Linked DNA regions of Homo sapiens: regions 2 and 3 are each linked to region 1. The links come from fine-mapping of genetic effects on gene expression. A gene starts in region 1. Each other region holds a variant in brackets. All regions are shown on one strand. Distances are between the middles of the regions.

Region 1 (2,837 bases):
CCAACCAGAGAGGCTGTGACCATACTAAATGATTTCTGCTTAATAATACCTGGGGAGGGGGCCGGAGGCAGTGGTTCACGCCTGTAATCCCAGCACTTTGGGAGCTGAAAAGGGTGGATCACCTGAAGTCAGGAGTTCGAGACCAGCCTGGCCAACATGGTGAACCTCCCTCTCTACTAAAAATACAAAATTAGCTGGGTATGGCGGCACTCGCCTGTAATCCCAGCTACTTGGGAGGCTGAGGTGGGAGAATTGCTTGAACCCGGGAGGCAGAGGTTGCAGTGAGCCAAGATCACACCACTGCACTCCAGCCTGGGTGACAAGAGTGAAACTACGTCTCAAATAAATAAATACATATATAATTTCTGCTTAATAATACCTGGGGGACTAAATAATCTGTACAACAAACCCCATGACACGAGTTTATCTATATAACAAACCTGCACATGTACCCCAAAACTTAAAAGCTAAAAAAAATTAAAAATGATTTCTGGCCAGGTGTGCTGGTTTACACCTGTAATCCCAGCACTTTTGGGAGGCCAAGGTGTGCGGATTGCTTGAGCTCGGGAGTTCGAGACCAGCCTGTGCAACACTATGAAACCCCCATCTCTACAAAAATACAAAAATTAGCTGGGTGTGGTGCCACACACCTGTAGTCCCAGCTACTCAGGAGGCTGAGATGTGAGGATCAGTTGAGCCCTGGAGGTCAAAGTTACAGAGCTATGATTTTGCCACTGCACTCCAGCCTGGGTAACAGAGTGAGACCCTGTCTCCAAAAAAAAGAGAGAGAAAGGAAATTATTTCTGAGCTTTATTGCTATGAAGAGGATGGAACCAGGGAATGAGATGGAACCACTGGGGGGTAGCAGTGAGGTCATTTCAGCCAAGGAGGGCCAGAAGGAACCCTCAGAGGAGGTAATAGGATAGCAGGGAGGTGATAGCCAGAGAAGGCCACAAGGAGAAAGTGACAGTTCACCCCTCGGAGGAGGTGACAGCCAGGACAGGAGGAGGGCCCCTGGGAGGAGGCGACATTGGAACACTGGAGCTGAGGCCTGAAGGAGGCCAGCTTCGCAGGTACCTGCGGGGTGTGTTCCGGCAGAGGGAACAGCAGGTACAATCGCCCTCCCCCATTAGCCTCCTAGGACCATGGGGGCCTGCAGAGAAACTTCTGGCACCACACAAATATGGTTGTCGTGTTTTTCCTTTTTTACTCTGTCCTCCCCCACCCCCGCCAACTTCCTGGCCTGAATGCTGCTCCTGTGACCCCTTGAGGCGAGTGACCTCGGGGAAGTGGCATTCTGTGCCTCAGTTTCCTTATCTGGAAAACGGGCCTTGCTCGCGGGGACTTCCCTCCCTAATTCTGCGCAGTATGCATGCATAGGGCAGGCCCTCAATGAACCCTTGCAGAATAAAGGACCGGCTCATCCCCAGCACCTGGCTCAGTGCGTGCAAGCGGCTACACACTACGGCATAAGATGTTCCCATTTTGCAGACGGGGAAACGGAGGCTGGGGAATACCGGGCCTAGCCGACGGGGGCGGGGCGCAGGGCGCGCACGCTGCGTCTCGGGCCCGGGGGCGCGCACGCCGAGCGGCTGACCGGGGGCGAGGCCGGGGGCTTGACAGGGGCGTGGCCTCGCGCGGCCGAGAGGCTGCAGCGGCAGCAGCTGTCGCGCCAGTCGCAACAGAAGCAGGTCCGAGGCACAGCCCGATCCCGCCATGGAGCAGCCGAGGAAGGCGGTGGTAGTGACGGGTACGCTGGCTGATGGGGGCTGTAGCGGCAGCGGCCGGGGGCAGAGGCGGGGGCGGCTCCGGGACTGCGGGGCCGAGAGGGGCAGGTGCTGGAAGTCCTCTCAGATTTGGAAGGTGTCATCACCCGCGGGAGCCCCGCGCAGCCCAGGCTTCCTGGAAAGTGGAGGAGGAGGAGCCTTGGGGGTCCCAGGGTCGGGAGTCAGGGCAGTCGGGCGCGGGGCTTGGGGGGCCGGGCAAAAGCCCGGCGCTGCGCAGGCCCCCCTGGCGTCCTTTCCTCCCAAGGTGGGGATGGTGACCCTCCTGGCACCTGCCTCCTCTGTCTGGCCTGCGGGCTGGACTGGACCCTTCCTCCCTGCCCCTTCCGAGGTCCAGCCTGTCCCCACACCGCTCCCCCAACCCCTGGCCCCAGGGGACAAAGGCCGATTTGCGGGCAGGAAGTGTCCCAGTGACAAATGAACCTCCCAGTCACTGCTCGCCGCGCCCTGCGCTCCTGGGGGGCTACTCTCCCAAGGCAGGGGCAGGTGGGGGTCCGGGGACCTCGGGCTCTCCCAGCTGTCCCAGGGACTGTCTTCAGCGGAAACCTTTTTGTGTTTTGTGCCAGGGCTGTTTGTTGGTGAGTCAGGGCCCCTGCTGTCACCGACTCCCCCCCACCCCCAAACCAACTGTTTCTCCTCCCTGAGACTCCGCCTCGGGGCCACGTGGGGCGCCAACTTCCGCTGGGGCCTCAGAGTCAAGGAGTGGGGGGGTCATTTTGACCTGCTGTCTGGAGGGGTCAGAGTGGGAAATCCAGCAAAGGTGCACACAGGTGTTTTGTGGCTGTTGAAGGGAGATTGAGGCTGATCCAGGAGATTCAGGGAAGAAGGAAGAAACAAGGCACCTGCTTAACAGGTGTGTATAATTGGGAGGAGGGTCACTGCCCCCATCCCTTCCAGCCTTCCTTTATCTGGTTATTTATTCCAGCACTTTTTGCATGAGCTGATTACATCTTTACTGTCTCCATTTTGCAGAAAGGGAAACTGAGGCTCACAGAGGTCATCCAGTTTGTAAGGGGCTGAGCTGAGACTCAAACTTTGGCTGTACAGAAGGAT
Region 2 (2,668 bases), 31 kb before region 1:
TGCGCCACAACCACCCACAGCCCCTCATCTACCTGCCAGGAGGAAAACAGAAAGAGGGATTTCTGTGTATCCAGCCCCAGGGATGGGGAAGGGGAGGGGACTCCCCAGCAGGCCTGAGGCCAGAGATAGACCATGAGGACAAATGACATTTTCCATGAAGCCCCTGAGGTGGGAGCATGTGGCCACTGGGGAGGTGACAGGGGGTTCCCGGGAGATGAGGGCCCCAGGGACTGAGTGGACGCTACAGCGGCACCTCCAGTAATCCTGAGCAGGCTGCACGCAGGGCACGCCTGTCCCCACACCCTCTGTGTGCCTGGCGCCCCTTCACGCCACCCTCACCACAGGCCAGGCCTGGACGCAGCAGGTTGGTCAGGCCGGGACCCAACATTGATCCCTCCCTCTCTGTCTCCCTTGGGGACCCCAGCTCTGTAAGCCCCGTTTAGGGAGCCGTTTCAGAGAACTTTCTAGCTGGACGAACGCTTGAGGAAATCAAAGCTGGAGCTTCAAACAGCAGGAGAGCCAAGGCCAGCAAGAGGAGCTGGCCCTGTGGCCCATGTGCTGGGTGCCAGGGGCCAGAGGCCAGCGCTGCAGGCAGCATAGCTCAGGCCCTCCACAGAGCCCGCTGGGAGGCTCAGTCGTGGGCCAGGGAGGTCTGGGGACAGGAGGACTGACCCCAACAGGAACTGGAATCACGGTCTACTCTGCAGACCTCAACCCCGTGAAGGTGGGGTCAGGGGTCCAGATTCAGAGGATCTAAGAGGTCAGGGCTCTCACCAGCCAGGGGCCACCAGGCCCTGTGGGGACAGAGGCCAGAGGCCAACGCTGGCCTGGGCCACCAACCTCCCCTCTCACCAGGCAGGACCAGCTGTGCTAGGGTGCACAGCCTGGTGGGGGTTACTGCGAGGCTGCTATCTGCACTCCATGGCCCAGTGGCTTCCTGCAGAGCAGCCAGAGAAAACCCCCCACTTCCCTAGGTAGGACCCGACCCACTCTCTCAACAACCTTGACCCCAACTACTGGGAAGGAGCCAGGCCGGGGACCCCAGAGGCCCCACCCACCCTGAGATCCCCAAAGCTCCCTGCCTGGAGTACTATCCCTGCCCCTCCCTCGGGCTCACTCCTGACCACCTCGTGAGCCTGCACAGAATTGGCGCCTGGGGCCTTCCGGGGGCAGCCATGCCGTGCTGCAAGCCCCCAGGCTGGCACCTGAGCCCAGCACACAGGCAGTGCCCATGGATGGCAGAAGCAAAGCCCAGGTCCCCCC[G/T]AGAACACAGAGCTGGGGACAGAGAGGTGAGGAAGGGCAGGGGCTACAGATGGCCCCTGGGCCTAACAAATGGAATTTTATGCCAATTCATCATCTCCGGTGGGGGCGGGCGACCTTGGCTCTGGATAGAGCCACGCCAGGTTCCAAGTGGAGTTGCCAGCGGCCTGGACAGATGGGCACCACCATACCCTCTCAGAGGGGAAACTGAGGCTTGGGGAGGTGACTTGATGTGCCCTGAGGACCGCCAGGAGGCGCAGTGAGAGGAGGGCTGAGTCCCAGGTCTCGGGGCTCCTCTGCCTGGGCCTCGGCTCATGGCCAAGGACCAGGAGGGGGGCCCGGGAGGGTTGGGAGGCTCCGAGGCAGCGCTGCAAGGGCAACCCCAAGAAGGAGGGATGCCACGTGTGGCTGTCTTCCCGCCCCAGGTACGTCCACTGGAGAGGGGAGACCCACCTCGGCCAGCGCCGCCCATGCCGCGGCCTTTCTGCTGCTTCTGCTGCTGCAGGCCTCCGCGGCCGCGGCCCTTGGCCACCACCTCCTCCTTGACCATGTCGATGATCTCGTCGGGGATGCGCAGGTACTTGATGGTGCTGCCGCGGATGTAGCACTCGGGCATCCGCCAGAACTTGTCCCCGTCCTGCGGAGAAGGGGAGCAGGTTATTAACTTACCACCGGGCCGTCTGGCCCAGCCCTGGGAGCGCGGGAGGCCCTGCAGATCCTGCCCAGCCTGCACCCCGTACCACCCCTGCAAGCTGCACAGTATCAGTCCCGGGACATACGTGGCAAAGGGTCCACCCTGCAGGCAGGATCTGTCCTGACCCCAGGCAATCCTTCACCCAGGAGCAAGGGTGGGTGTGGTAGGCGCAGCCCCCATTGTGCACTCACAAGGAAGACTGGCTCCTATCCTCTGCCCGTGGGCCTGGCTCAGGAGTGGCTGACTGGGGCTCCCTCCAGCCTGGGATGGGGCTCTCTCTGGTTGGGGTTCTTCACCTGCAGCCCAAAGCCCAGAGCGGGTGGGGGCCTCCCTGTGCACCAGACACAGCCGAAGCCCAGCTACTCCTCCTCCTGCCCCAGCCCCACCTCACTTCTGGAAGCCTCTCTACATGCCCTGACTCATTCATTCATCTAAGTATCTCCTGACAGGGCCTGCGCTGGGTGCAGGGACATGCGAGCAAGCTACAGGCCTAGTGTGGTGGGTGAAGAGGGGCGGGAAATGGGGGGACTTGGGTCCTGCCAGGGTGGCTCAAGGGCGGCTCCCAGCGATGCCAGTTTTAGGAGAGCTAACCAAGACTGGAGAAATGGGGGCCTTGCAAAGACACAGACTCATGCTGCAATGCCTCCGAGGCCCCCACTGGGACAGATCGAGGGATTAGCAGGGGCCAGGGCCATTCCTACCATATCAGTTTCC
Region 3 (2,500 bases), 29 kb after region 1:
AGGGCTGGGCAGGGACAGGGGGTGGGGGCCGAAATCACAGCTTCCCCATCAGAGCCAGATGTGTGAAGGAAATGTCCCAGATGGCAGTAGTTTCTCGGCAAGGAGGGGAATCCTGGAGATGGTTCATGTCTGTGATCCCAGTGCTTTGGGAGGCTGAGGTGGGAGGATTGCTTGAGCCCGGGAGTTCGAGACCAGCCCTGGGCAACATGGCGAGACCCCATCTCTACAGAAATTAAAAAAAAAAATTAGCCAGTTGTGGTGTCAAGCACCTGTAGTCCCAGCTACTTGGGAGGCTGAGTTGGGAGGCTTATCTGAGCCCAGGAGGTGAAGGCTGCAATGAGCCATGATTACACTACTGTACCCCAGCCTGGGCAACAGAGCAAGACCCTGCCTCAAAATTAAGAAAAAAAAAAGGGGGGCCAGGCGCAGTGGCTTATGCCTGTTATCCCAGCACTTTGGGAGGCCAAGGCAGACTGATCGCTTGAGGCCAGGAGTTTGCGACCAGCCTGGCCAACATAGCAAAACCCCATCTCTACTAAAAATACAAAAATTAGTCAAGAGTGGATGGTGCGTGCCTGTAATCCCAGCTACCTGGGAGGCTGAGACAGGAGAATTGCTTGAACCTGGGAGGCAGAGGTTGCAGTGGTGTGAGATCACGCCACTGCATTCCAGACTGGGCAACATAGCAAGACTCTGTCACAAAAAAAAAAAAAAAAAAGAATTCCCTGCTCTGCTTTTCTGCTCGTTGCTGGCATAGAAACATCTAGAACAGAAAGTATCCACTCTGGGGCAGATGGGAGAGCTGGAAAAGTAGATTCAAGATGCCTTTTAGTCTTGGAAGTTTCTTCCAGGAAGCAAGACCAGCTGGTATGTTTACACCTGCACTCCAGTGCCCTGGGGAGGTGACCAGGTGGAGGGGGATGGCTCATGGAAATCTGTCCCGCACAGCTGGCCCCCTTTTGGCTGCCACTGTCTAGACTGTTGGCCTTTGACCTCTCTGCCTCTTGTGGCGTCTGAACCTAGACGTCCCTTTTGGAGACAGCTGGACAAAGCCCTATTCTCCGCAGCCCCAGCCTCTATCCTGAGGCCTCTGGGAGC[T/C]GCGTGACGGCCAGCATGGGGTGCTGATCATGGTCAAGGAGGCAGGTCTTTGCCAGGTTGCCCCATGCAGCCACCCATCCTCAGCATCCTAACTTGAGGGGGCAGGAGAGGGCTTTGTTTTTATAATCCGGATTAAATTTCCCTTCCCTGGGCACAAGTGCCTCATGAGGGCCCGGGGCTGCTGGTTGGGAGGGAAAGCATCCCCGTTTTTGCAGTGAGGAGGCCGGCCGAGGGCTGGGGTTCCACTTAGACCCTTGGCAGAATGGCTGTTGAGGGGCAGGCGCTGCCCAGTGCCCACGTCTGGAAAGCTAATTCCCGGGTGGACGCTGAACATACCTGCTGAGAGACTCTGTCCCCTGGTTTCCAGGACAGTTGTCACAAGCTGAGTGGGGGGGGACTCCCAGGACTTGAGGGACCCAGTCCCACCCCAAACTGCTCCCCCTCCCCCAAATTCCCTTTCTCCTCCTGCTCTTTCTCCCCGCTGTGCCTCCCCCAGTTACCCACAGAAGTGCCTGCCTCTCCAGCGCTCACAGAACACACAAAAAGGGACAGGAATTGGTCACTGGGTAGTGGCCGTGGCTCCTGACGATCCAGACCAGCGTCTGGCCCAAGCCATTCAGAGGTGGGGTCTGGGGCCTGGGGGTTTTGTGTCGTGACACTTTGTCTCAAGGAGATTCCACATAGGGATTTGAATTAGGCTTTCTGCTTGCCAAGGCCTGTGGCATCTGAGCCTGGCTGAGGGCCGGGCAAGCCTCCCCTGAGCCTTTGGAAGCCGAGTTCACTCTCTGCCTGCCCAGGGGAGCACCGGCTTGGTTCTGGGGGCTCCTCTAACATCTCAGGTTTTTATCTTGTCTTAAATTTCTTTCTAGGAAAAAACCCTTCCCTGCCAAAGGTGACTGTGTTTTCTGCCGCCGAAGGAGGGCCCGGTCCCTCCAGGCTCAGTGTGGCTTCTCCCTGACCCCCGCCCTAGAACTTTTGCCAGTGCCTTTTCTGAAACTCCTGTGTCCCGGGCCCCCCAGGCGGAGAAGGATATGCCGGATTCTGCCTGGGGCTGGGCTCTAGGAGACCCCAAATTTGACACCACAGAAAGCAAATAAAACACTTGAAATACGCATACATTTCCTGTGTGTCCTTTTGTGGGGCTGGAGTTCAGCTGGGTGCCCGGGGATAGAGGGGACCCCGTGTCACTGGGTTTCTATTCTCGGTGGTGCTGGGCCCAGGGCAGCTGGTGACCATGTGCTGAGTGAGCGAGAGGAGGGGAATTCTGCCTCCAGTGGTCTCCTTCCTCAAAATCAGAGGCCTGGCCCAGCGCAGTGGCTCACACCCGGAATCCCAGCACTTTGGGAGGCCGAGGTGGGTGAATCACCTCAGGTCAGGAGTTCCAGACCAGCCTGGCCAACAT

The links.
Region 2: its variant is fine-mapped to the expression of PGPEP1 in whole blood (TOPMed, PIP above 0.99).
Region 3: its variant is fine-mapped to the expression of PGPEP1 in whole blood (INTERVAL, PIP above 0.99).

The regions. Positions count from the first base shown.
Region 1 is chr19:18,338,966-18,341,802 of GRCh38, forward strand. PGPEP1 (pyroglutamyl-peptidase I) reads left to right here and starts at 1,633. Exons shown (of 5, transcript NM_017712.4): 1 at 1,633-1,750. The coding sequence starts at 1,717. RefSeq lists a silencer at 1,482-1,671 and an enhancer at 1,503-2,190.
Region 2 is chr19:18,307,965-18,310,632 of GRCh38, forward strand. LSM4 (LSM4 homolog, U6 small nuclear RNA and mRNA degradation associated) reads right to left here. Exons shown (of 5, transcript NM_012321.5): 4 at 1,714-1,897. Among named protein-coding and RNA genes, the nearest start is that of LSM4, 14 kb to the right of the region's middle. The variant G/T (reference allele first, on the strand shown) is at 1,264.
Region 3 is chr19:18,367,739-18,370,238 of GRCh38, forward strand. It overlaps PGPEP1 (pyroglutamyl-peptidase I), which reads left to right. Exons shown (of 5, transcript NM_017712.4): 5 at 1-2,212. Among named protein-coding and RNA genes, the nearest start is that of GDF15, 17 kb to the right of the region's middle. The variant T/C (reference allele first, on the strand shown) is at 1,099.